Linked DNA regions of Homo sapiens. The protein of the gene in region 2 interacts with the protein of the main gene of each other region in a pairwise test. Each region holds a gene or a part of one and is shown on either strand. Other genes may lie near its edges.

Region 1 (7,654 bases), on a different chromosome or scaffold from region 2:
GGGGAGCCTGTTTACTAGCAAGCTTGGAGGTGATTAGAACAAGTCACGAGCATGGACAGGGAGGAGGAGGGGGCCATGATGCTGCCTCTGGCTTATTAAGAGTGAGATCGATGCTGGAATCCCTGAGGGCAAAAAAAAATCAATGACCCAGGAAAACGACACCAGCTGACAGCCCCAGGAAAAGGCTCAAGGAAGAGCCGCAAAGAAGAGAAAGGCTTAAGGAACTTTCCAAAACTCTGCACTGCTAATCTCCTGGGGGGAGAAAGGGGCCTATATTGTACAGACAATGGCTGGGACCCCTGACATTCTGGCACTTTCTTTCACATGGATACACCATCCTCCCTCCTCCTTCACAGGGCAGAGGGATCCCAAGTTTCCTCTATCCTCTGCTAGTTTTTGATGTTCCCTTTATTTAGAAAAACAGGCAAGTATCTGCATTGTCAAACACTGCTCTCTAGCCCTGGTTATTGTGATCAGGCTCTGCAGGGGAGGATCCACTGTCTCCTTCCAGGCCTCAGTTTTGGTTTCTATGCACTCCTTCAAGTTCATAAAAAGGAACAGGACCGACTGTCCCAGGAACACAGGCGGCAAGCTTTGAGGCCACATGGGGTTCGCGTCAGCTGAAACACTGAACCGAACAATAAGATGGTCATCTTTGGAGCTTAGGAATTTGCAGAGGGAGGGCGGCTAAAATCCAAGTCAAATGAGCCAACTTTGGAAGATGATCTTTCTTTCTCCCTGAGATTTTTCTAATATTTCCCTGACCTCACATGATATAGAATTAAGGTTTAAATTTAAGTGCATCAGTGGTTTGGGAGGACATTATATTTCCTTTCTTCTCCCCAAAAGGCTTCTGACATGTTCTGCCTAATCTTCAGATCTCTGGAGAGCATCACTGATGAGAGGAAAAATGGGGGCTCGTTGTGGGTGGCAATATCACCACCTACTGCTGGCTCAGGGAGTTTGAAACCCTGGAATTTAGGTTCGTATGGAAAGCAGAAGAAAATGCCTTTTATCATTTATACTATTTAGAATAACATGTATCAAATCATTCATTTTACTAAGGAGTTGATAGCTCAACTCCACTGTATGTAACAGTTGCTAGATACAGACAATTCCAAACTTGGGTGGTAATCTATAGACTGTTACAAGTATTGCAACTGCTTCCCTAAAGCAACAGAACTCTAAGTGTCTATAATCTGTGAAAACAATCTAATGGTTACACTGCAATTTGCCTAAAGCAATATTTGTTCAGTTGCAATGATGTCACAAACACAAAAAGGCTTGTCAGTTTTCAATTATTTCCTTAGAATTCAGAGCTAGATGGTGGCTGAACTCAGAACTGCTTTCCATAGCTCAAATCAGCTAATACAGAGCTTTTCTAGCAGCCAAGAAAGTTCTAGTAGTACAAAAAAAAAAGTTAATAGCCCTTGAAAAGTCTGATGCATTTCCCCACAACTCTTACCACAGAGTTCTGATCCTGGGATGCTTGATTTTAAGGGCCGTGGGTGGCTTGCCAAATAGGCCTTATCTTGGCTTCCTTTGCTAGGTAGGAATACTGCCTTGATATTACATATTCAAAGCAAAGAACCTCTGACCTAAGGGCTCTCCACTAACAATGACATTCTCTGTAAGTAAACTAGAACCCCATCTCAACTTCTGGTTTGCCCTTGTTCTTTGCTATGTACTAGCCTACTGCACAAACAGGACTGAGGAGGACTCCCTTTACCACCATTATGTTGCAAAAGACTCTGCACTGAGGACCCGATAGGGACCGACTGTGCAAAGCCTGAACTTGGCAGAAGATCCCTGGAGAAGGAGGAGTATGGGGCTCAGAGCTGCTCCCTAAGCTGGGCTGGGGAAGGCTGAAGGCCTCCAGCCTTGCCAGAGGGAGATCCAGGTGTGCTTCAGCGGCAAGGACATGTGTTACCTTAAGCAACTGCAGCGCTAACTTAAGCATGTGCTCCTATGGCTATCGTCAACCTAGAAATCCCTTTCACTTTGGGGCGTCACACCTGTAAGCTCAGAACTATCTGAGATCCGCTGCGAGAGCCTGGATCACGATTCCCAAAAAGAAAAGCCTCCTAGTTTATTCGAGAGTAGGAAGTCATTATTTTCTGTGAAGGAAACTGGAATTGGAGAGGGAGGACCCTGGTACACTTTGGCAGAGAGGCTCCTCTCTCTTATCTAAGTATCTCCTCATCCCTCACTGCCTTTCCACCAGACCTCCAGTCCCCGCGGGCTTCCCTTTCTACCTGCCAATGTGGACTCGAGGTCAAGTGTCCCCTGGGCTAGTCTCCTTACATGGGCAAACGGGCTACGCGGGTGACAAACGCGGCGCAACGCCTCCGACCACAACACGTGTATTTTACAGCGCTGGGCGCGGCACAGGGCTCAGTTTAAGGAGCCTCCATAGAACGAGCGTGGCTCAGGACCAGGTCCCTAATGCTAGGAAATTGACGAGGTCAACAGCAGGGCGAGAAACTCTGAATACATTACACACCCTTCCTTCTTGGGAGTGGCAGTCCCCCGTCGCCACTTCACTCGCAGCCATCTATATGCCAAGGGCTCACACCAGACAAGTGTCTGTGAGCACGCCTCAACTTTAATCCTACCCCGCCGTGTCCACTGGTGCGGCTGCCCCCAGTCGAGGGTTCACCTGGGCGCTCCGCGGTGCCGGGGGCACACAGCCAGGGAGGGCGCTCTTACCAGAGAAGTCGGTGAGCGCTGAGATCTCTTTGGAGCAGACCAGGACAGTGCAGTAGAAGAGGCGCAGGAGCTGCCCCGGCGGCTCTACCTGCCGGCGGAGGCCGGGATGCTGCACGGGCTGGGGCGTCGGCGGTTGGCGTGCGCGTCCCGGCAGAAGCATCGTGCGCTGCGCGGCGGGGCGGAGGCGCAGGCCCGGGACGCGCTGGGGGTCGCAGGGCTAAGGACGGCGTCACATGGCGGGGAGAATCGATGGCCAGCGGCTCCGCGGCCCCCCGCCGCCTCCCTGCCCAGGCTGCCAGAGCCTCCTCCCCTGCGCGGGCCAGCCCAGGCGCCCCAGCAAAGGGGAGGGGGCGGAGAACTGGGGCGGGGCGAGGATCCCCGAAAAGGATCCGCGTAGTTTCCCCGAGAGGAAATCTCCGTTGCCGCCGTGCCGGAGGAAGCGAGGGGGGCCGTAGGGAAAGCGCAGCCTTCGCGCGCCCCGCGGCTGCCCAGGCCGATCCCTGGCGCGCTGCCCACCGCGGAGGGCGCCCCCAGTAGCGCGCCCCGGGCCGCGCACCTTGAGCGCCTTCCACACCCGGGAAACAGCCGGGCACCCGTGGCCCTGCCCGCGCTGGCCGGGTGCCAGCCTCGCCCTGGCGGCAGAAGGAGCGCGGCCGGTGCCCGTGACGCACTTTGGAGCCAGCGCCGCGCGTGCAGCTGGGGCGCCCCCGGGGCGGGGCCGATCGGGGGCCGCAGGAAGGTGGGGTCCTGGAGGCGTGGGATCGCACCGCTGCCATCCCCGCCACCCGCCGCGCGCCACGTGCAGTCACCCGGCACATACAGTTATCGCCATTCCACAGAAGAGGAGACTGAGCCCCGGCGCCGTGCCCAAGCTCTCGCAGCCAGGACGGCGACGAGCTGGAGGTCTCAAAACCGGTCAGATGGCTCCGGAGCCGGGATCTTTAGCTCCAGCTCGGCTTCCTTTGGGTGCTGGTTGTCCGCAGCGCTGGGGGATCTGACACTGCACCGGCGCAAACAGCCGCCGAGCGCTAATAATTGGGCTTTGTTTTAAAGTGGGCCACAGCATCTTTCTGAACCTCTAGACTGTGCGCGGGGTGACCCACGTTCGGACGCCCAGCCAGTGGCCTAGGAGTGGCCTGCGTAGCCCCAACTCAAGGGTATCGAGGACAAGTGCGCGAGGGGCTCCGTGGCTGCTTGCCGGGTGCGGGTACCTGGCGCCCAGCGACCCAAACCCTATGGATCGCGCGGGGCCGGCGGAAGGGAGGAGGGCGGGCGCTAGGCACACAGTGTTCCCGAACCCGGCGGGAGGGCCTGCCAAGTTCGCGGCGGGCGTGACGCGGAAACGTAGATAATGAGGCCCAGGGCGGGGCCGGACGCACTGCCCCGCGGGCTCCAGAGCTGCGAACGCCCCAGAGTGTGCAGGGAGGCCTGCAGAAAGAAAATGCGGCTGAGGGTCCCCGTGGGACCCACTCAGAGGTGGGCCGTAAAGATCCCGGAAGGGTGGATGGCATTAGATACCACCTAGTACTCCAGCAAGGGCTGGGTCACCGAATTGGGATCTCGGCCTCTTCTTCCAGTCTGGGGAAAAGTGTGTTAAATGCTAAACATCAGTGTTTATCGAGTGAGGCCCAGCCTGTCTGGCATAATGATTTTTAAAATCTACATTCAAATATTAAATAAAAACTCAACCTCCCCAATAACATTTGAACATAAATATTAGTGTGCGCTCTCTAGGTTAGGGAAACTGAAGCTGGGAGTGTGGGTAAGGATGCCCAGCACTTAGGAGCCACAGGGTAAGTAATGTTTGTCCAAAACTCGGGTCCCTCCTGTACTTTCCATTCTGTCTGTTCATTCATCCAGTTTAGATATGAATTGGTACCAACGTGTGCCAGGTTCTGCGCTAGTGACTGACAGTGTTGGCACAGGGAGGCAGCCATGCTCCCGAGTCCTGGGAGTGGGCAGCACTGCCCTGTGGGTCTGCACTGGCTTCCAAATGTCTAAGTGGGCACTGTTACTCACTGTGACAGCATCCCCAGGCTTTCTTACCTGGTAAAGCAGAAACTCAAACATACTTACACACCAATATTCATTGCAGCATTATTTATGATGGCCAAAAGATGGAAGCAACTCCAGTGGATGAATGCATACAGTTACTATTACAGCAGGGAAGACAGACATTGGAAAATAATGCCCCGTGAACGGACAGTCACGAAAGACAGGAACCATGGGAGCAGAAGCGAGGAATGAAGGAGCTGAGCCCGAGGGAGGAAGGGAGATATTCAGGAGCATTTTAAGGCAAGATGGATGAGAAAGCTAGAGGATGAATTGGCCAAGCAAAAACTAGCAAAACCCGGGTGTTGCGGGAGGATGAACATTTTAGAAAAAGGGACCAGCATGTTGAAATCCAAAAGGAGCATGGCTGTCTTGAAGGATGGGGAAAAGTCTAGACAGCTGGAGCAGAGCAAAGGGAAGAGCCAGGGGACTTGGAGGTAGGCAGGCCAGAGCTCAGGGCCCTGGAGACTTTGGTGAGAATTTCCGTCTTTTATCTTAAGCCAGCAAAGAACTGTAAGTACAAAAGTGATGTGATTGGATGTGTGTTGGTAAAAAGTCCTTCTCGGCTGCTGAGTGCAAATGGACTGGAGGAGTCAAAAGCAGGCCCTGGAAGTATGTGTGCCAAATAACTAAAAGCAGAGACAGACTCAAACAGATACTTATGCACCAATATTCCTTGCAGCATTATTTAGAAGAGCTGACAGATGGAAGAACCTCAGTGGATGAATGGATAAACAATATATGGCATGTGGCCGGCTGCAGTGGCTGGTGCCTGTAATCCCAGCACTTTGGGAGGCCGAGGTGGGTGGATCACCTGAGGTCAGGAGTTCAAGACCAGCCTGACCCACACGGTGAAACCCCATCTCTACTAAAAATACAATATTAGCCAGGTATGGCGGCACACGCTTGTAGTCCCACCTACTCGGGAGGCTGAGGCAGGAGTATTGCTTGAACCCGGGAGGCAGAGGCTGCAGTGAGCCAAGGTTGCACCACTGCACTCCAGCCTGGGCAAGACAGAGCGAGACTCCGTCTCAAAAAAGAAAAGTGGGTCTGGGGAGATGGCCGTGGTGAGGGAGAGAGTGCAGTCAGGGGTTTATGGCTGTGCTTGGGCTGATGTGCTCGCTGTACACCCAGAAAGAAGAGGAGAAGCGGCCACAATGGAAGGATGTTTAGAAGGCAGATGGACAGCACAATGCGACCGGGCAGTCGTGGGCTATGAGAGGGTCTGAAGGACGTCTCCCTGGCTTCCCTCTGTTTTGTCCCTTAGCCCCTCACTGTTAAATCAGAAGATTTTGGTCCTAATCTGATCTCTTTAAGAATTTTGGAATCTTGCGAGAAAACTGAATTGCTCAGTTATCTTTCTCTCTGGACCCCACACTTTTCTAAGAGCTTTGTAGGTCAAATACCTTAACTCTGAGGCACTATAACAACTCATAGGACGGAAAAGTGGGAAAAGGAATATATGTTTCAAAGAGGGATGAACAGTGTAAAATCAATCTGGGGTCTGGAGAGAAATAATCTTTTCCACCGAGGCAGTTTTCCTTAAATGCTTTCTACTATGATGGAATTTGAATAATAAAAACAGTCATAGCCACTTGGTATTTCAACACAGTTATGGGAGCTGGAATTAAAGTGAATGATGACTGGTGTGCCAAATAATAAAGTGTTTCCAAAATATTAATACTCACAACAACCCTTTGAGATAGGTACTAACTAGGCTAACTACGTCATTTACTTGCCCAGTGCAAAACGAAAATGTGGGGCCCCTCGTTCAAGGATTATTAAGAATTCCAGGATGATAATAGCAGAGCATTAAACCAAGCATAGTTTAATGCTTTGAACACAGGGCCCTGAGTGATTGCTCAGGTCATATGAAGCTGGCCCAGGTACAACAGGAATCTTCATTTCTCAGATGGGGAGACTGAGGGCACAGAGTCATACTGACCGTCCGAACCAAGACTTGAAGCCCTCTTATACTGCAAAGGCACAGCAATTAGGTGGAGGTAAAATAAAGGGTTCTTTTCTAAGTGATGGCACCATTGGGCAATCTTGTTCCTTCTTGTACTAGTTTGAAAAGTGCCTCTGTAGTCACAGCATTCAGTCCATGTGTGCAAGAGGCAACCTTTACAGGACATTGTAAATTACACGTCTTACTTTCTGTCTCTTTGTTTTCTTTTAAAGCAATTCCTGCACCTTCTTTTCAGCTCCATGTTACATCTCTATTTTCCTTCTTCCTTGAGATCCTAGCTACTTGTCTCTCACCCTCTGCCATATCCAAGCCTATTTATTTTTTCTTTAGGTGGAGTCTTGCTCTGTTGCCCAAGCTGGAGTGCAGTGGCACGATCTTGGCTCACTGATATCTCCGCCTCCTGGGTTCAAGTGATTCTCCTGACTTAGCCTCCCAAGTAGCTGGGATGACAGGTGTGCACCACCACACCCAGCAAATTTTTTTTCTTCTTCTTCTTTTTCTTTTGTATTTTTAGTAGCGACAGGGTTTCACCTTGTTGGCTGGGCCGGTCTTGAACTCCTGACCTCAGGTGATCCACCCACCTCGGCCTCCCATAGTGCCGTGATTACAGGCTTGAGCCACCAGGCCCAGCCACCAAGCCTATTATGGGAGATGTTTATGTGCTTCACACTCAGACTGCAACCCTGAGCCATGTCCTCTCACCTGGGCCATTGAGGTAAGGTTTTTGGCTTCCAACAAATGGGCTGTAGCCCTTCTGAGAAGACATAAGCTGCCATTTGGAAACCTCAAAGAAACCAACCTTTCAGCTCAGGAGAGAGAGGCCCAATGTCGTCTGGAGCTTAAAAGGCTTTTTTTTAGAAAGCAACAAATGGTAGTTTGTTTCTAGAGCTGGCACCACAGAGCCGCATCAATAGCAAGGAGCCT
Region 2 (2,844 bases):
TCACTGTCCCCAGGTACACTTCCCGAACCACAGCAATAAAGGAAACTCATCGTAAGTAATGACCGCTTGCTTGTCAACTGGGCAGATTGGGTAGGCCACAAGCACTCACTGGTTTAGCTGCATTCTCCTTTATCAAGGAATTTAATACTTATTTATCAGGGTTTCCAGAAAAATACGTGGCCATAAACGAGTCACAATTCTGCATCTCTAATATTCAAATCCAAACCATTTTGAAAGTTCAAACTTCGAATTTCTATGTAATTCAAGACTCTCCTAGATTTATTTAACCACATCTCCAATTAATCCTGATTCATTTCTGGCCTCTACCACCTGCCCACCTATGAAATGTATCTTCCATGTTTAATTTAGAATTCTGTATATTCAGTTCAGCTTGTATTAAAAACTAAGAATTTTAAAATAGGAAAATGGAGACACACATACAACCTGCATCTGGTGGGTTAAGTATACAGATATGGCACTACTTTCTGTAAATAATGCAAATACTCAACATTTGAAAAGTTTACTGAAAACTTTTATTGTAATCAAAAAGTGACATAACAGGGTTGTAATGAATTCAGCAAATCATTCTGCTGATATTTTAGAACTTATATCAGCTTTTGCCAGGCAATTAAAAAATTCAAATGTGAAAATTTCACATTACAGTAAACTCCACCCCAACTAATTAATGGTGGTTAAAAATAATAGGCCCTAGCAAAACCTCTCATGTTACATGGTCACAACTCACAATTCTGTACAAAAGTTCGTGTTATAAAGCTCTGATGTAAAAATCAAATAATCAAGCAGCAATATTTTAAGTGCAGCACAGGGTCTTCCATGTCATTATTTACAAGGCTTGAATCTCTTTACATTATAACAAAATTTAATACAGATGACTTAGTAATTAAGTCAATTTAAAAAATCTGTCTTTTTACACAGTGACAGATTTCACTTTTTGGTCATCTTTCTCCTTCTCCTTCTCTTTATCTTTGTTCTTCTTTGACTTCTTTTTCTTGTGTTTGTGTTTTTGGCTTTTTTCCAATTCCACTTCAGTGCCTGCATGTTTCTTATGCTTCTTATGCTTTTTATGTTTCTTGTGTTTTTTCTTTTCCTTCTTTTTCTTCTTCTTCTTGCTGTCCTGACTTTCTGCTGAGCTGGCACTGCTACTGTGGCTTCGGGTCTGGCTTCCAGAAGGACTGTGGCTTCTGCTGGGGCTGACGCTGGGGCTGCTGTGGCTCTGATTCCTGCTTATGCCCACCTGGACAACTGCTGCTGTGTCCAGGCTCTCTTTTGCTTTCTCCACTATTTTATCTTTCAGGTCCTTAGAAATGTTTCCTGAAGATTCCTCTTCTTTTACAGAAACATTACTTTCACTGTCACTTTCATTATAGTCTGGTTCAAAAGCAGCTTCATCAGTTTCTCTAGTTAAGTCAGAGGAAAGTCTAGAGGAATGACTTAACTGGGGTTTAGGCTTGACAGTACTCTTGTCAATTTGCCCAGTAATTTGCTCTTTTTCAACCTGTGTCTCTGGTGGGTTAAGTATATAAAGTAGTTTATTGCCACTTGACTCTTTATTGTTCCTTGCTTCTAATACATGCTTCTCACGATCCTTACAAGGATTTTTATCTACAGATTTTGTCTCTTCATTTGGCCGTTTAGTATCATAAGTGGCTTTGTGATCATGAGGTTTTCTGTCTCTTGAGGGACTAGAATTACTTTTTTTGGAATCTCCTGTTCCTTTTTTAGGCAAATCTCTCTCTTCCCTTGGTTTATTTTTCTGTCCAGATGCAGAATCTTTATTCCGAGAAGGAGAGTCTTTTCGTCTTGTTAATTCATTCTTTTCATCTCTACGTTTGGAACTTGAATACTCTCTGGTGTCATAGTCAGTTTTTTTGTCTCTATTGGGAGTGAAGTCTTTATTTGAGGAAGCACGAGTGGAATCATGTTTATCTGACGTTCTAGCCTCTTTGGAAGATTGAGACAGACTTTTAAAATTTCCTTGTTCATTCAGACGGTCCAAATTACTCTCTTTCTCTGGCTGAGTGCTGTTCTTCCTCTTTTCAGGGTTCTCCTTTTCCAACACTGAATAATCTCGATCTTTGGTTTTCCCTTTTTCACTAGATGCAGAGTTTTTTGAACTTTTAACCTCATGTTGTATGATTTCATGGCTCACGTCCTTGGTGAATTTCTGAATTTTCTCGGATGGCTCACTTTCTTTCTCAGGATACTTGACTATATTTGATGGCTTTGTACTAACATTTTTTATAACACTAGCAGGTTTTCCTACACTTGATATAGGCTGTGTGGATTTAACATCTTCTTCTTCAGATTCAAAGTCATCTTTATCCCATTTGGATTGAGGAACCTGAATCATAATGATAACATCTTCAGCTGGCGCGGTATTGTCATTATTATATTCTTCCATCGTTTTAATCACAGTTCGCTTTGTATCTGTTTTTTCTTCAGATTTCCGCACAGGACTGCCTCCAGTTGAGCTCGTACTAAAAAGAATAACAAAATATTTTTAATTAATGAAGAATTTACTATTAATTATAAAACACTGATAAATATAAAAATGCTAACTTAAACACAAATGTCCTTTTAACATTAAAAAAAACAAAAAACTTATTCTGCCCTAAGGAAGACACACAATTTAAGATTATGATTGTATCAACACAAATGTGGCTCACCCCCAAAATCTATTTACAACCTTGTCTTTGGCAATTCCCTTCTTCAAAGACAACAAAAGACTACATAAAACCAGCCTACTTCCCTAGATCAGCATTCATAATTAATATAAAAAGCACAAGCATGGATAAAACTGAAGAAAATCCTTCTCCCAACAAA
Region 3 (7,046 bases), on a different chromosome or scaffold from region 2:
TTAAATACAATAGTGTAAGTTAGAAAACTTGTACACACTTTTTCAGTGTAAACCCCTCTTTTTACAAATGAGGAGAAAGACTAAGGCGATGCTGCTAATTGGCCAAGCTGAGACCAGACTCCTGGTCTTCAGCCTCCTCCTGTGCTTAGAGAAGATGCTTCTCTAGACCTTTGTTACCCAGCGTCCAAATCATTTTTGCACCCAAACAGGTCTCATGGATGCTGCTTAGCTGGGGAGTAAATCTTCAGATGCCACAGTTGCTTTGCATTTATGCAATAAACGTGTGCAATGCTAAGAAAAAAATTGGTGCAGCTGATGTTCAAGCAGTTGTCACGTGGGAGGGAATTCTCTTCTGCCAAAAAGCCAAAAAAAAAAAAAAGAGAGAGAGAGAGAAGATGCTTCTCTAAGCACCCTCATCACCCTGGATGGCGAGGACAGAAACAAGCATGAGATGGAGAAGACAAAAAAGTCAACACTTTGGCTTATGTGGGTGTCTCATGTCCAAAAAATCACTTTAAAACTATGGTTCTGCTTGATTCTAGAGAGTTCTATTCTTCATAGAGCGAGTGACCACTTCTCCAACTTCCCACCCTCCCCAAACTGGCAACCCGGCCAGGACCTGTAGGCTCTCACTTCCTTTCACCCAAAGCTTGCCAGGGCAGGGCAGGGCAGGTTGAGAGACACAGAATAAAGGAAAAATTAGGGAGGAGAGGGACTGTTCAGGCCAAGGCAGCAGAAGAACAAGAAATCCCAAAGAGACCAGGCTTGAATCAAGGCTGAATCCAGTTCACATCAACTCTGACCCTGCTTGGCTGTATTTCTAGATAACTTTGACATCAGTTAAGCCTTTTTCATTTGGGGTTATGTATTCCTAAAAGAAAAACTACGCTTTTAGGTAAATACCAAGTAAATTACACTTTAATTTTTTTCTTTTGAAAACAAAATTCTTTTGAAATCAGCAGTTTTTGCCAAACTAATACAATGTTACCGCAAAAATTAAAATACAAAAAAGTAACAGATGGATATTAGAATCACCTGAAACCTCACCATGTAGAGATAATTATACTAATAATTTGTTCAATATTCTTCTGGGTATTTTTTAATCTATCTAAACGAACATAGATGTCACACACACACACGTGATTACAATTTTACCTTCATGAGATTATTCTCCACATGTTCTTTTGTAACCTGCTTTGTTCACTGACATTTAACATAATGCTATGGACATTTTTCTCTGTTGATAAATGTGGCTGTCTATCCTAAAGATGATGACTGCCAAGTATTCTATTGTATGTATATATCATACTTTTAAAGAGCCTCTTATTATCGTATAATTAATTTGTCCCCAATTCTTTGTCATTATAAAAATTCCTAAAATATTTTACATTCCCACTAAATGCCGAAAAAGAGCATTTTGGGGACAAAGAAAATATGCATTCCATATTTGAATACATATTGACTAACTGCATTCTATAATAGACCAGCCAAAATTAGACTCCCACTGACAAAGGCATCATGTTTTAAATTTCAACTTGCCCTCTCGTCTTCATGTTAGCTTCATAGGCAATGAATTATGGTTAAAACATATCCTGGGTATGAAGATGGCACATGGGGAATTCAAAAGCACAATAAAGCTGTGGCAGAAAATGTAGATTTCTCCCCACCACCCCTCACCCCAGCCTTTCCTCTTTGAAAACAATGCAAAATTTGAATAGATTTCCAATGAGCATTTATCCTAATGTCAATAATTTAGGATTCCTATCAATTCAAACAAAAAGCATGTCCTTTTGGCTTGGAATACAGGAGACAAAGAATTTGGCTTCCAGGGCTGGGCTCGGTGGCTCACGCCTGTAATTCCAGCAATTTGAGAGGCCGAGGCAGGCGGACCACCCAAGGTCAGGAGTTCAAGAGCAGCCTGACAAACATAGTGAAATTCCATCTCTACTAAAAATACAAAATTAGCCAGGTGTGGTGGTACATGCCTGTAATCCCAGCTACTTGGGAGGCTGAGGCAGAAGAATCGCTTGAGCCTGGGAGGCAGAGGTTGCAGTGAGCCGAGATCTCGCCATTACACTCCCACCCGGCAACAAGAGCAAAACTCCATTGAAAAAAAAAAAAAAAAAAGAATTTGGTGTCCAAAACAACTAACCATGTAAAAAAAACTTGCTCCAAACAACAGCACTTTTGCCAAACTAAAGGCAACACCTGGGCTACCAAGGCAACATCTTTAATCTACAATGTATAGAGTTTTAATTTCTTTTTTCTGAATACTATAGAAATGTATTTTTGAAGACTCAGAGTATCTCCTCTTTCAGGAAGCTTTCCCCTCCCCCCTACCCTCTTTGGCAATTGCATGGACCTCCTTGATGCCCCTCCATGGGATTTACTGTAACGGTGTAACAAAGTTCATGACACTTCCTGTATCTATGCCTGTTTCTGCTCCTGAATGATGAGTAACTTGAGAGTAAGGATGGTGTCTTTTCAGATGACACATAGTAGCCATGCAACAAGTGTCTGTTTACTAAATGAGGGAAAGTACCTAAAGTACTTGAAACAGAGTTGGTGTGTACAATCCTTGTGCGTCCTGAGCTTATCCAAGAGAGTAAGTTATCGTTTGGACATTAAAAAAAAAAAAAAAAAAAAAAAAAATCCCTGTGATGAAGTGTGTCCTTGTGTGACCCTGAGGTTAGGCTTCTCAAGAGTTAACTACAAGCAAGATGGCACTTTTCTCTAAACTATAGGATGTACCAGATTGATGAGTTCATCTATACTCCTTCAGTGTGTTCTTTCTGATTCTCATGAGTAGCCCACGTGTATTTCCCAAATCATTTGAGTAGATGTCTTCCCTGACCTGTCACTGTAACAAAAGCTCCCAAATCCAATTCTCTAAGAACTCAGGTTTAAGATCCATCATATCTAGGAAAGCTGAACATTCCTTACTCCCCATGGAAACTTTGTGGTTACAACGCATAGAAAAGAAAAAGGATTAGAAGAACTGAAGATGGTTTTTCTGTCTCACTACTAAATCTACAAGAACCTCATTTGCTTGACTAAGTAATCCAACATTACAGTAGTAGTGAATATTCCTTCTTATTTTAAGTAGCCAGCACTGACAAATGAAGGCTGTGTTCCAAATTATGGGCTACTGTCTTCTGTGTCTTAAGCTAAGTGCATTTATTCTTTCACTAAGGTTACAGAGCAGCAACTCACAGTACAATTAACATCTCAGTCTTTGTTTCTTCACAACTTCACTATAATTATTCCGCCAACCCTTGCTTAAATGGAAATGAGTCATATCCATCTCCTATTTCTCTAAAAATAAACCCATCTCCTAATTAAGCATAACACTTTCAAGTCCTGTATGAATTGACATAGCTCAACGAATCCTTCTTAGAATATTAAAATGAACTCATGTCATTATAATTTTAAAGAGTATATTGTTTTACCCTTCCTTGAGGAGTAACTCGCTACTATCTCCTGAAAAAGAGAAAGACTAGAAGATGTTTTACTCTGGTATACCATAGCAGTTAAGAAATAAGGAATGCTTCATAGATTATTTTATGCATTTCCTTCTCAGTGGAAACAAATCCCTCACCATACAGTACTGAAATGGCATTGTCAACAATGGACAGAAAGGTCTTGCTTCTCCTAGGCATCAAGGAAATACATTAAAACCTGCCGACTCTTAGGTCTAGGAATCTAACTAAGAAAATGCCAATTCTAGTCTCTGAAACCTTTGAAATACTAACAATCTACACTTTCTAGTCAATCATACTTCTGTCAGAACATCTTCCTGAAGATCAAAGGTAATATTCAATACACTGCCTTACCATAAAAGTGGCCATAGCCTGTGTACAAATGCTATGCCTCAAATCCTGTATTTTACCATGAAATTCAACAAATGATCACACTTGGCCTTAGGATGTACTCCTGAGCCAGAAGCATGGTAAGTACTCATAAATAACTGAATAAATAAATAAGGATTGTGTTTTACTTCGAACCTCAAAACAAAAAAAGAATAAGCTGGAGGAATAATGTAGAGTACTCTTTGCTTTCCAAGAATGGTCGTAATAGAGGCCATGGAATAAGAGATTGTTTTCCAAGTCAAATGCAAAGAAGGGCCACGAGATTAAAAACGTCAACTCTAATCCAATGAATGCTGCCAATGAAACCTCTGAAGAGACTAGCATTTTAAAGAATTACATTACAGACTCTTAGCCTGTGAAGCATGTCAGACATAATCTAGAGTTTAGACTTGGCTCTGGCTCTAAAGGAATTCTCAACAAAACTGAGAGGCACCATAAATAGAAAGAGATATTACAAGAACAATGAGAGGGGACTGGATAGTTGCAATAATGCCCCTTTAAAATTGAACTAAAAGATACCAGCTGCCTTAGATCTCTCAAATCCAGCAAGCAACTTCTTGGACTATGTCTGATTGTGATTTTCATGGTGGAGTTTCATTTGTTTTATTACCCGAAATGTAAGGTTCCAATTTCTCAGTATAATGCTAAACAGCTTGCTAGCATTCTTATATAAAGAGGGATTGTGCAATTCCAGTGAATTTTGGAGTTGGAAAAAATTCATCAATCTTCTCATTTATTTCAATGAACTGAGTCCTAAGAGGTTACGTGTTTAGCAGTGATCAAGAACCCTGGAGTTACATACTATGGGTGAACGTAGAACTGCTTGCTGCGTGTATGGCCATGAGCAAATTTCTTAACCTCACAATCAGTTTCCTCAACTATAAAATGCAGGTAATAATATCAACACTTTCAGGATTATAGAGGAGGATCATACAAAACACAAATACTTAGCAGCATGCTGTATAAATAGTAAAAATGGTCAATAAATAATAATTGTTATTATTGCTATTTTATCAGTAGTGCCTGGCAATTAGTAAGCATTAGTAAATGCTTACTAATGTCACTAATTAGTAACACTACTGTTTTATATTAATTACTTTTTTCTACTGCCCAACATGGCAGAGGTTATTTAAGTGTTAGAGCTAGAACATGGATAGCTAAATCTCTCATCTCTTTTTCTAAAGACTTGTATTCAAGTCATGAAAACAGGATTCCCTTTCATAATCATAGGTTGAGTAGCATTAGTCAAGAATTTTGCAGGAGAAAAGAGCCACAATTTCTGTTTAATGGTAGTCTGTTTGTACCATTGTTATGCATAAAACCAAGAAGTAAGCATTTTTCTTACAGTGGAGAACTAACTCATTGAAAGATTGCATAGCACAAATGGTGAAATATTGCAGCTTCCTGAGTTAAACCAACATCTTTTTGATATAATGTCGATCTTTTGTGGACTTACGCTTTAGCAACTAGATACAAATATAAGGAAGTAGTAAAGCACTGCGGAAAATAGTGCAAGATTTCTTGTTTGTTCATTTTTTTCATTTTTGCTTTTTCATTTGTTTTTGCTTTTTCTTTAGAGCAGTGCCTCCCAAACTGTAATGTGCATATGAATCACCCGGGGATCCTGTTACAATGCAGTCTGCTGCAGTAGGTCTGAGGTCTGGCCAGACATTCCACATTTCTAACAAGCTCCCACGTGGTGCTGATGCCGCAGGTCAGAGGACTTCACTGTGAGTAGCAAGGCAGCGCTGGACTAACTTGGTTGAACTCATGAGTGATTATAACAAGGTAGGTGTTTAGGAGGCAGAGCCCAAGGAGGAACAGGCAAGACTTCTGTGCCAAGGCTGAGCAGATGCTGGTAACCTCAGGTGCAATACAAACCCGGCTGGGGAGAATTGAGTAGCTCAGGACCTGTCAGTGTCTCAGGAGCCATATGCCAGATGCACATCTGCCAAGACTTCTTGCTTTTCCTAAGAAGACATGGTTCTAGTTATTTGGTCCCTTTTATCAAGAAACTGGCAATGGTGCTTTCTCCCATCAACAGAAGTCATTTGGATTAAGGATTACAAGAGGTGCCAAGAGATAATTTAAAAGAGTTATTTGCATTATATGTTTTTTTTTACAATTGTAAAAGACTCACATGTTTTGGAAACTTTTTGTACATTGTTTTGCAAACTTTTATGCATCTGGAATTATTTCAAAGTGAAAAGTTTTTTTTAAGTCTCTAAAAAGACTAAATCTCTTTTAAATCTCTAAAAAGACCAAAATTCTGGAGTTTTCTACCTTTCCACATCTCTTGAAAATTTATATATTTTTTCCTCCCCATTGAGAATATTTTCCTGACATTTGCACTAAATGTTTGTTGCTTACTCTCATGCTAGTAAGTACTACCCAGCCTGTTCCCTCTAAGTTCTGAAGGCAGCTCCAACACTTGATTACTGGAATATGAAATCTATCCTCTTTTGAAAAAAAGGCAGATCAGAAACATCCTTCCCTCACTGCTCTAGATACCATTTTTTTCTACCTGAACTCCCAAAGCATGTATAGGTTATACTACACTACTTAATAATTATATTGTCTTTCATTTTTATCCTCTTTTCTAGTAAAGATTATTGTGTTAATTTTAAAAATGGAGTTTACATATTGTTTCTTCTGTGTTTGGTATGGTCTCCAGCACAAGGCTGGGCATGGAGTAGAAATAAAACTGATATTTGTCAGGGAAGGGACTGACTTACTTACCCAGGAAACTAGGCCTGGGTAGTCTTTCTTCAAAGTCAGTATCTTCATAACAATGAATAAGTAATCCACAGATACCACTTCAGAAAACAGGCTTAATCCAGTGTTCTCCTAGATAAGCAAATCAGTCTAAGCAGAAAAATCTATCCTAAATTTGTGTAAATGTCTTAGAGTTACTTAGATTCCTATGACATGCAGTTCCAATCACAAGCTCTGGGTTCACATTCCATTGGCTCTAATCAGGGTCCACCATGAGTTAACACGGTCATATGACTGAGCCTCAGAGTCCCCACCTGGTAAATGGGGATGACGAGAGTGGAGTGCCCACCTCAAAACTTCATTGTAGATTAAATGAAGCAGTCCCTGCAAAGCACCTAGCAAGGATGTTGGAACATACCAAGTGCTCAGTAAACGTTAGGGCTGAGTATTCCTCCTTAGGTG
Region 4 (4,097 bases), about 47 Mb from region 2:
GTGATTTGGACTCAGTAAGTCCAGAGATCCTGCCTTTACATCATTGTCTTTTGTTTTCTGGAGTGCTGGTAGGTTAGATCCCAAACTCTGAAGTACTGTCTGTGTTAAAACACTTTTTCCCCATCCCATTTTGAGCTAGCCTCTTCCTCAACCAGGCCCATGCCTTTTCTCCTAATTCACTTTGAGGAGGCAACAGCATGCAGTGAAAGGACCTCTGAGTTTGTATCAAACAGACCTGGGTTCAAAGTTCTGCTTCCCTGTTTCATAGCTATGTAACCTTAAGCAACTCACTTACCATCTCTGAGTCTCTGTTTCCTTGTCTGTAAAACAAGGACAACAGTTAACTTTCTGGGACCTAGCATTCAATAGGCACTCAATCAGTGAGCATGATTCCCTAAGGTGGAAGAGTTTGTATCACCTTCGGGATTTCCAGTGGGTTTAGGGTGTTTTCTGCCATACTCCCAGTAGACTCTATACCTTCTGACTACCCTGGACCATAAAGGAGCAAATAAAAAAGACTCAAGACTGAACACAACACAGAAATGGGTCAAAAGAAAGCTCTTTATTGATTGACTCAGCAATGCAGGGCTGGCACCCATCAGCTTCAAACCACATCTTATCGCATCCACTCCTGTCCACTCCCGTCCACTTTGCCCTCTTCCAGGCTGAAATCTTGCTTTCAGGCAAGGGCTTCCGGCCAGCCTTGCATTAGTTCTCAGCTATGGTCTTCTGAACCCAGTCCTGGATGGAAGTCACCTTCACATACACACCATACTCAGCCACAGCACAGCTCTTATCAAAGCTTAAGATCCCAGTCGCATACCAGGTGTCCTCCTCCAGGTCGTGAACGGCAAAGGCACTGCCCGCATCGCCATAGCAGGTGTCTTCTTGGTACTTAGACATGCCAGCACAGAAGGTGTGTTCATTCAGTATGGGCTGCACCCCTACAGGGCTCTTCGGTGTCTTCTTTTCGGGGACTGTGCTGCCTTCATAATGCCTTATGCATTGGTCTTGGTCAGCCACAGGCAGCATGACATACTTCAGATGGTCAGTAAATTTAAAATTGGCATTTCGCCCCCAGCCAGAAACATAACCCACACGCCCTACTTCTGCATAATCCTTTGAAGGTAGGCAGATGGGCATCACTCTCTCATTAACAGACACCTTCTGTTTGAGTTTGATGAGCCCAATATCTACCTGGGAGTAGTTAGGGTGTAGAACAACCTTCTCAATCTCTACAAGCTGCTTTTTCCCCACATAGAGTGTTAAAGTAGGGGCAATGTCTTTCGCTGTTGCATTTTCTGAATGGTTCAGGAAGAGATTTTTAGCCGTGGTCAGCAGCCATTGTTCATTGATCAGCGTGGCACCTGTGGTGAGATTATGGTGGGAAACCATCTTAGCCTGCCAGGGAAAGCTGCCTTTGGCATCCAGGTGTCCACCCAGGATCCGCTGCACTGGGTTTGCCGGATTCTTGGGCTTCCCACATACTGTCAAGGAGAGCAAGACACTCGTGAGTGGAAATGTGCAAGAGCCTTTCCATCTGAGAAAGGGGTGAAAGCATGGGCGGCTGTCACTGCTGCGTAAAGTAGAAAGATTTAAATGCTTTGCCCTTACCACCTGCTGATCTCATTTCCAATAGTTGCAGTTTTAAAATAATTCTGTTTTTTAAATTGTTTACATTACAAAAAGCTCTATTTCCCACTTTTCTAACAAAGGAAGTGGGAAATACTGAGATTTTTGAGCCCTGGCTGGTGAACTGTATTATATTTAAACAATTATCCCAATAAAGGAATTTCCACAATTCCCTGAAATTCATTGAAAGGGCTAGGGGCTACAATAATTCATTCTCTCTAAAGAAAGATGAATCTAGAGCAGCACTGGCTGGAGCTCAGATTTTGTAGATGGTGCAGTTAATACGAGGCAGGTTGGCATTTCCACACCAGTAAGAGCAGAAGAGGCTGGGCCTTTGCCTCTTGTTCTGAGAATGAAAGGAGAGAGCAACAGCTCCTCCTAATAACGAGAAGCAGGAGTTCCAGCCCATGTCCAGCCTCCTGCTAGGCTTCCATGGATTAAGATTTTATGTCATTCCTTGACTTGTTCTCCCTGGAGCTTGCTTCTCCTTAGACCCAGGGCTCTCTAGCAGGCTCTCTGTATGCACAGGCTCTCCTAATCTGTGGGCGATGTAGACAATGGATTCAGCCAGTGCCCTTCAGGCCCTAATGAACAAGACCCTTGGTGACCCTTAGGGAGTCATCACCTAACTGCTTAAGTCTCTCCCTGGCCAGCTGCGGTTCTCCCACATCCCTCCTCCTGGCTCTTGTGTGCTCAGAGGAAGCCGCACTGGAAGGCTGTGCCTCTAGGACGTTCCCCGCTGGACGCCTGCCTGCTCTCTTAAGTGCTCAGCACCCACCTGCTTCACATTCAGGAAGTTTATCTCCAACAGCCTTATTTATCCACTGCTTCTCATTGTTTAAGGTGTACACTCCTGAAACAAAAGGCAAGAAGTGAGCCAAAGGAGAAGTCAAGTCTAGACCCCGTGCAGAGTGAGAAGGCATTTAAAGAGAAGAACTAAAAGGAAGAGGAAAAGGGGACAAAAAGGAAGGGGAAAAGGAGAGAGTATATGAGAAGGAGGAAGGGAAAGAGTGCTGTGCTGGAAGCCAAGTGCCTGGATGCCAGTTAAGCCCAGCAGAACACACTGTGGTCATGGCGGTCACAGCCAAGCAGTACAGGGAGGGCTCAGGGTTCAAATCCTGACTCTGCCTCTTACAGGCTGCCTGAATTTGGGCAAGATACTCAACCTGTCTGTGCCTCAGTTTCCTTATCAGCAAAGTGAAAACAATAAACTCTGTTCAGAGGGATACTGTGAGGACTAAGTGAGCAAATAAGTATAAAGCCCTTAGAGCAGTGCCAGGACAGCAAGACTCACTAGGTGAGGGTGACATCATCATCAGCATTCCTTCTTTTCCCACATCTGCTGGAGATGTAAATGTGACTCTGAGATTTACATGAGGTAGGCTGCATGGCATCGCCTCCCCTTAACAAAACAGAAAACTTGAGGCTGACAAAAGTTAGTCTGCCCAAAGGGCCATGGCTACTGGCGACAAAACGCTTATTAGAATCTAAATCTCCTGGCTCCAAGGAGAGCAACGAACTTTCTGGCGAATCACCTCAGCACCACCCATCATGGAAATGTCAGAGAAGGGGGTTGTATGTAGGGCATGGAGACAGTTGTCCACATCTTACCATCTCCTTCTGTGCGCAGTTTGTAGTAGTTCTTACACTGGTAGCGAACCGAGTGCTCCACATAGCCATGTGCAATCTCGGGGGGCTTCGGGCAGCCGTCATCTGCAAAGAGAGAGAAGCCAGAGAGTTTGCTATTTGGAAATTGTTCCCAGTGAACCGTGAAAAGTCAGATGAGCGGGAGCTGCTCTGCACATCAATCTCCTTCCACCCCGAATAGAAGCTCGCGAACTGTATTATTTTTAAACAATTATCCCAATAAAGGAATTTCCACAATTCCCTGAAATTCATTGAAAGGGCTAGGGGCTACAATAATTCATTCTCTCTAAAGAAAGATGAATCTAGAGCAGCACTGGCTGGAGCTCAGATTTTGTAGATGGTGCAGTTAATACGAGGCAGGTTGGCATTTCCACACCAGTAAGAGCAGAAGAGGCTGGGTCTTTGCCTCTGGTTCTGAGAATGAAAGGAGAGAGCAACAGCTCCTCCTAATAACGAGAAGCAGGAGTTCCAGCCCATGTCCAGCCTCCTGCTAGGCTTCCATGGATTAAGATTTTATGTCATTCCTTGACTTGTTCTCCCTGGAGCTTGCTTCTCCTTAGACCCAGGGCTTTCTAGCAGGCTCTCTGTATGCACAGGCTCTCCTGATCTGTGGGCAGTGCCGACAGTGGATTCAGCCAGTGCCCTTCAGGCCCCAATGAACAAGACCCTTGGTGACCCTTAGGGAGTCATCACCTAACTGCTTAAGTCTCTCCCTGGCCAGCTGCGGTTCTCCCACATCCCTCCTCCTGGCTCTTGTGTGCTCAGAGGAAGCCGCACTGGAAGGCTGTGCCTCTAGGACGTTCCCCGCTGGACGCCTG

What was found.
Region 1: the proteins of RBBP6 (region 2) and EVA1C interact in a two-hybrid assay, tested with the Homo sapiens proteins (one study listed by BioGRID).
Region 3: the proteins of RBBP6 (region 2) and ETS1 interact in a two-hybrid assay, tested with the Homo sapiens proteins (one study listed by BioGRID).
Region 4: the proteins of RBBP6 (region 2) and HP interact in a two-hybrid assay, tested with the Homo sapiens proteins (one study listed by BioGRID and IntAct).

The regions. Positions count from the first base shown.
Region 1 is NC_000021.9:32,408,069-32,415,722, reverse strand, and holds the start of EVA1C (protein eva-1 homolog C isoform 1 precursor), read right to left. Parts: upstream 3,018-7,654; 5' UTR 2,870-3,017; coding exon 2,710-2,869; intron 1-2,709. UniProt on the Homo sapiens protein: Binds heparin.
Region 2 is NC_000016.10:24,570,530-24,573,373, reverse strand, and holds the end of RBBP6 (E3 ubiquitin-protein ligase RBBP6), read right to left. Parts: intron 2,499-2,844; coding exon 929-2,498; 3' UTR 511-928; downstream 1-510. UniProt on the Homo sapiens protein: E3 ubiquitin-protein ligase which promotes ubiquitination of YBX1, leading to its degradation by the proteasome.
Region 3 is NC_000011.10:128,577,551-128,584,596, forward strand, and holds part of ETS1 (protein C-ets-1), read right to left. Parts: exon of another isoform or gene 5,447-7,046; intron 1-5,446. UniProt on the Homo sapiens protein: Transcription factor. Directly controls the expression of cytokine and chemokine genes in a wide variety of different cellular contexts. May control the differentiation, survival and proliferation of lymphoid cells.
Region 4 is NC_000016.10:72,057,502-72,061,598, reverse strand, and holds the end of HP (haptoglobin isoform 1 preproprotein), read right to left. Parts: intron 3,346-4,097; coding exon 3,244-3,345; intron 2,486-3,243; coding exon 2,411-2,485; intron 1,488-2,410; coding exon 709-1,487; 3' UTR 544-708; downstream 1-543. UniProt on the Homo sapiens protein: As a result of hemolysis, hemoglobin is found to accumulate in the kidney and is secreted in the urine. Haptoglobin captures, and combines with free plasma hemoglobin to allow hepatic recycling of heme iron and to prevent kidney damage.